Linked DNA regions of Homo sapiens: region 1 is linked to region 2. The links come from fine-mapping of genetic effects on gene expression. A gene starts in region 2. The other region holds a variant in brackets. All regions are shown on one strand. Distances are from middle to middle. Region 1 overlaps HELZ2 (helicase with zinc finger 2). Region 2 holds the start of LINC00659 (long intergenic non-protein coding RNA 659).

Evidence for each region. PIP is the estimated chance that this variant, and not a neighbour inherited with it, causes the effect.
Region 1: its variant is the best candidate, but not a certain one, in a credible set for the expression of LINC00659 in naive CD8 T cells (Schmiedel 2018, PIP 0.54).

Annotation. Positions count from the first base shown.
Region 1 is chr20:63,558,531-63,561,426 of GRCh38, reverse strand. It overlaps HELZ2 (helicase with zinc finger 2), which reads left to right. Exons shown (of 20, transcript NM_001037335.2): 14 at 1-77; 15 at 153-345; 16 at 498-632; 17 at 730-948; 18 at 1,100-1,256; 19 at 1,332-1,499; 20 at 2,057-2,896. The coding sequence ends at 2,181. Among named protein-coding and RNA genes, the nearest start is that of FNDC11, 5.8 kb to the right of the region's middle. The variant T/C (reference allele first, on the strand shown) is at 1,459.
Region 2 is chr20:62,775,068-62,777,963 of GRCh38, reverse strand. LINC00659 (long intergenic non-protein coding RNA 659) reads left to right here and starts at 1,108. Exons shown (of 3, transcript NR_046225.1): 1 at 1,108-1,158; 2 at 2,578-2,649. RefSeq lists a silencer at 1,640-1,801.

The sequences.
Region 1 (2,896 bases), 780 kb before region 2:
CCTTACTCGTCGGAAATCAAGGCCTTTGACACCCGGCTGCAGAGAGGGGAGCTCTTCTCCAGGGAGGACCTGGTCTGGTAAGTGGCAGGGGCCAGGGGGTGGAGCTGCCTGCAGCATGGGGGCCCTGGGGTGACAAGCAGTGTCCCCGGCAGGTACAAGAAGGTCTTGTGGGAGGCTCGGAAGTTCGAGCTGGACCGGCATGAGGTCATCCTCTGCACCTGCTCCTGTGCAGCCTCTGCCAGCCTCAAAATCCTGGACGTGAGGCAGATCCTTGTTGACGAGGCAGGCATGGCCACGGAACCTGAAACCCTCATCCCCCTGGTGCAGTTCCCACAGGCCGAGAAGGTTGGTCGGCGGGGGGTGTGGGCAGCATGAGCAGGCGTCCCTGGCACAGTCTCCCACCTGGGGTGCCCTGTGTGTGCAGACGCGGGTGTCGTGTGGGGCTGGGGTCCCTCTGGGTCTAGGGGTGTCAGGGCCAGGCCTGCCTATTCCTCCAGGTGGTTCTTCTCGGAGACCACAAGCAGCTGCGGCCTGTGGTCAAGAATGAGCGGCTGCAAAACCTGGGTCTGGACCGGTCTCTGTTCGAGCGGTACCACGAGGACGCACATATGCTGGACACTCAGTACCGCATGGTGAGCCCGCCCCACTCAGCCCCCAGCCCACCTGCAGCCCCTGGGGGGCCACAACCCCGCGTGGCAGCCTCTGACCAGCGCACATCCTTGCCTGCAGCATGAGGGCATCTGTGCCTTCCCCTCTGTGGCGTTCTACAAGAGCAAGCTGAAGACGTGGCAGGGCCTGAGGAGGCCGCCCAGTGTCCTGGGCCACGCTGGCAAGGAGAGCTGCCCTGTCATCTTTGGCCACGTGCAGGGCCACGAGCGGAGCCTGCTGGTGTCCACGGACGAAGGGAATGAGAACTCCAAGGCCAACCTGGAGGAGGTGGCTGAGGTGGTGAGTGTCTGGTGCCTGTGAGTCAGGGAGGGCTTTCTGGAGGAGGTGGCTGAGGTGGTGAGTGTCTGGTGCTTGTGAGTCAGGGAGGGCTTCCTGGAGGAGGGCAGGAGAGACACCAGGGTCCGCTCCACCTGCCCCCTCGGCTCCTCAGGTCCGTATCACCAAGCAGCTGACCCTGGGGAGGACCGTAGAGCCCCAGGACATCGCCGTCCTCACGCCCTACAACGCGCAGGCCTCTGAGATCAGCAAGGCCCTTCGGCGAGAGGGCATCGCCGGGGTGGCCGTGTCCTCCATCACCAAGAGCCAGGGTGAGGCTGGGGGCTCGTGGGTGGGGCCGGGAGGGTGGGCGCAGCGGCAGCAGGGCCTCACCTCCCATCCCGCAGGGAGCGAGTGGCGCTATGTGCTGGTGAGCACCGTCCGCACCTGTGCCAAGAGCGACCTGGACCAGCGGCCCACCAAGAGCTGGCTCAAGAAGTTTCTGGGCTTCGTTGTGGACCCCAACCAAGTGAA[T/C]GTGGCTGTCACGCGGGCCCAGGAGGGGCTCTGCCTGATCGGTGAGGGCGGGGCTGGGCTCTTCCAGGGTGGGAACACAGGTGAGGCCAGGGCTGGGCTAGGGAGCTGCCGACTCCTGCCTGACCCTGACTCCGACCTGACCCTGACTCCTCCCACCTGACCCTGACTCCTCCCACCTGACTCTGACTGACTCCCATCTGACCCTGACTCCTCCCACCTGACCCTGACTCCTCCCACCTGACCCTGACTGACTCCCACCTGACCCTGACTCCTCCCACCTGACCCTGACTCCGACCTGACCCTGACTCCTCCCACCTGACCCTGACTCCTCCCACCTGACTCTGACTGACTCCCATCTGACCCTGACTCCTCCCACCTGACCCTGACTCCTCCCACCTGACCCTGACTCCTCCCACCTGACCCTGACTCCTCCCACCTGACTCTGACTGACTCCCATCTGACCCTGACTCCTCCCACCTGACCCTGACTCCTCCCACCTGACCCTGACTGACTCCCACCTGACCCTGACTCCTCCCACCTGACCCTGACTCCTCCCACCTGACCCTGACTGACTCCCATCTGACTCCCACCCTCACAGGAGACCACCTCCTTCTGCGCTGCTGCCCCCTCTGGCGTAGCCTCCTGGACTTCTGCGAGGCTCAGCAGACCCTCGTGCCTGCCGGCCAGGTGCGCGTCTGCAGGAGGCCAACTATGCCTTCCTGAAGAGCCCTCTCCACCTGCAAGGTGCCAGGACTGGGAGGGAAAGTCCAGGGCCCCCCCACCCTCCCCACCACCCTCCGCCATCAGCCTGCCTGGGCCAGCCTGCCTCCTGGCCTCAGGATCTCCCTGGGGCAGGAAGTGGGTGGACTTGGAGGAGGAACGGCAAGGGCCGGTCCCCACACTCTTGCTCCTCCTGGGCATCTGGGGACAGGAACACCTCTCAGGGTGGCCAAGAGGGGCTTCCTTGGGACCAGTGCAAGGAAGTTCTGCTGTCCCTGGGAAGTCTCAGAACCAGGAAGGAAACCCTGTGGAGGCTGCCCTTTGACCTTTGGACGCCACCTGTAATCACTCTGGATGGTGTCTGTGGAGTTCAGGTTTATTTTCTATTTAAATGAACTAAAAGCCAGCATCCTGCCGGGCGTGGTGGCTCACGCCCATAATCCAGCACTTTGGGAAGCCGAGGCGGGCAGATCACCTGAGGTCAGGAGTTCGAGACCATCCTGGCCAACATGGTGAAACCCCGTCTCCACTAAAAATACAAAATTAGCTGGGCGTGGTGGCGGGCGCCTGTAATCCCAGCTACTTGGGAGGCTGAGGCAGGAGAATCGCTTGACTCCAGGAGGCGCAGGCTGCAGTGAGCTCTGATGGTACCACTGCACTCCAGCCTGGGTGACAGAGCGAGACCCTGTCTTAAAAAAAAAAACAAAACAAAACCAGC
Region 2 (2,896 bases):
CATGCCATCAGACAGGCCGGGGACCACGCCATCAGACAGGCCGGGGACCACGCCATCAGACAGACTGGGGACCACGCCATCAGACAGGCCGGGGACCATGCCATCAGACAGGCTGGGGACCACGCCATCAGGCAGGCTGGGGACCACGCCATCAGACATGCTGGGGACCACGCCATTAGATAGACTGGCCAGGGACCATGCCATCAGATAGGCTGGGGCAAAGCCATCAGACAGGTGGAGGTCCATGCCATGGGGCATGAGGTGGTGTCTGTCACCTGGTCCGGGAGCACAGTGTTGCCCATCCGTGCCACCTCCCTGAGGCCCTGGCAAGCATCATTCTCTAATGCAGACAGATGGCTGGGGCGCCAGCAGGAGCCAGACTGCCGCGGAGCAGGAACTGGGCAACTAAGGGTGATTTGGGCCGTAGAGAAGTGATTGATGTGGACAAATGGAGTCTGCAATGCAGGCCCCACGCCACCCTGGCTCCCTGTGCGAACCCAGGGCTCTGCTGCCCTGGCGGGGCTGACTCCATGGACGAGGTGGCTCATGTAGGGCTGGCTGGAAGTAATCATGTCACCCCCTGCAATCATGCCCCCAGGAGATTAGAATAGGACCCTGATCCCTCGTTTCTGTCCTATCCCCTCCTTTCCGTCCCATCTCCTCCTTTCTGCCTCATCTCCTCCTTCCTGCCTCATCTCCTCCTTCCTGCCTCATCTCCTTCCTGCCTCATCTCCTCCTTCCTGCCTCATCTCCTCCTTCCTGTCCCATTTCCTCCTTCCAGTCCCATCTCCTCCTTCCAGTCCTATCTCCTTCCTGCTCCCATCTCTTCCTTCCTGTCCCATTTCCTCCTTCCCGTTCCACCTCCCTGTTCCCATCTCCTCCTCCTGTCCCGCCCCCTCCTTCCTGTCCCGCCCCTCCTTCCTGTCCCACCCTCTCCTTCCTGTCCTGCCCCTCCTTCCTGTCCCGCCCCCTCCTTCCTGTCCCGCCCCTCCTTCCTGTCCCACCCCCTCCTTTCTGTACCTGTTGACCTCATCTGGGCTGCAGTTGGTGACTGCTCGAAGGGGTGGGAGGAACAGTATAAAGTCCTGTCCCCTTCCTGCCTTCAAGGGCACCCCTGAAGGACCATATCCACTGTGGACCCCCTTGGGATCAGCCGAGGTCTGTAGAGGTGACATTGCAGCCCAGCACCTCCCTCCTCCGCCCTGCCCTCCTCTGTCCTCCTTCCACAGGTGTGGCCAAGGGCACTGCCCAGTTGGCCTGTGACCCCCAGCTGAGGCTGCTTCCTGGGCAGCTGACTTCAAGTTTGTGACCTGAGCTCTCCAGGCCCCCGAGCGGCTGGTGCCTTGGCCCTGCAGTTCTGCGGCCAAGACTCCTCCTCTGGGATCTCGTCTTACCCTGCTGCGGGTGCCAGGGCTGCATGAAGCAAGGGCGAAAGTCCCCTTCGCCCGGGCGCTGCCCTCTGCCTGCTGTCCCCTGTGCTCCTGTTCCCCGTGGCTGCCCAGGGACAGGTGTGTGGGATGGAGGACGCGGGAGAGGCTGAGTCCTCCCCAGTGGACCCCCAGATGCAGACCCTGAGGCAAGGGAGAGTGAGAAAGTGAAGGAAAGAACACAGCTGGAAATGCAACCAAGAAGGAACCCCAGCCCGGACCACTGTGAGCAAGGAGAGCCGAGCCCCGGGGAGCCCTGAGACAGTGTGGGAGTGGAGGCCTGGGGCGCCTCCAGGCAAGGCAGCGGGATGTCTATGCCCCAAGCCCTGCCAGTCGTGGATGGAGACGCACACTTTAGTGCGGGCTCCAGAGACAGAGGGAGCCCCAGGCCGAGAGCTGTGGGTGCTGGGCAGGTGGGCATTGGCCAGCATTGCCCCCACTCATGGCGGGTCCACCTTAATTCGACGGGTGTGACACTCTCCTCACACATGTGCACATTCAAGAGGCAACTGTCTGTTTCTATAACTGGGTGCATTTCGGTCTGGAGCCGTCGAGCCGGGTGGTGGCCATGAATCCCAGGCAACTTGGGGGGCCCAATCCAGGGTTGCCTTTTGGGGGCCTTGGGGCGGCTAGTGCAGTTCCACATGCTGTTAAGGACCTTGAGATGGGAGATTATTCTGGATGGTCAGGGTGGGCACAGTTTAATCACAGCCCCTCTAAGAGGGACTGGGAGGGTCAGGGTCAGAGGAGGAGAGGGGACGACGGAAGGGAGAGAGAGGCTGGGAGATGCCGTGCAGCCAAGGAGGGCAGGAACCTCTAGAAACCACAAAAGGCGAGGACACAATCTCTCCCCTGAGGCAGAGACCCAGGGCTGCCCCGCACAGTCGCGCAGATCGTGTACTGCCCTGCTCCTGGGGCTCATTCACACAGGTTGCCATGGCTGTGGGGTCCCTGGGGCTGGGCTATCTGCCAACCTGGGGGACGCTGCACCCTGTTTTCTGTCCTGTCTACTCCAGCTTTTCACACTCTCTGTTGCCCTTGTCCTTGGGCATCTCAGTGACTCGAAGGAATTGGGTCTTGAGACACAGCCGAGCCTGTGAGCGCTGACCTGTGTAAAGAAGACACCAGAATGAGATGTCTCCACACACAGAGAGCTGCAGCCGATGCCGGCCGGTGACTTGGGACTTGGATGCTTAACAGGAGGCTCCCCCTCTCTTGGGAGGTGAGGATGGGGTTGGGAGCATGTGTCTCAGGGGCTGGCTTCACTCGCTCCTTAGCCCCAGCAGGTGCATCTCCCCCCTGCGAGGGCCTGGTTGCTGTAGTTCTTCTAGAAGGCCGCACTGAAGGGACCCTCTGATCCTCATGCCAGCTCTTAAGACATGCTCCACTCTTAAGACAGAGACAGGAGCTCCCGGGCTCGTGCACACCCTCCCTCTGCGCATGTCCAGGACTCAGGGTCACAGCGTGGG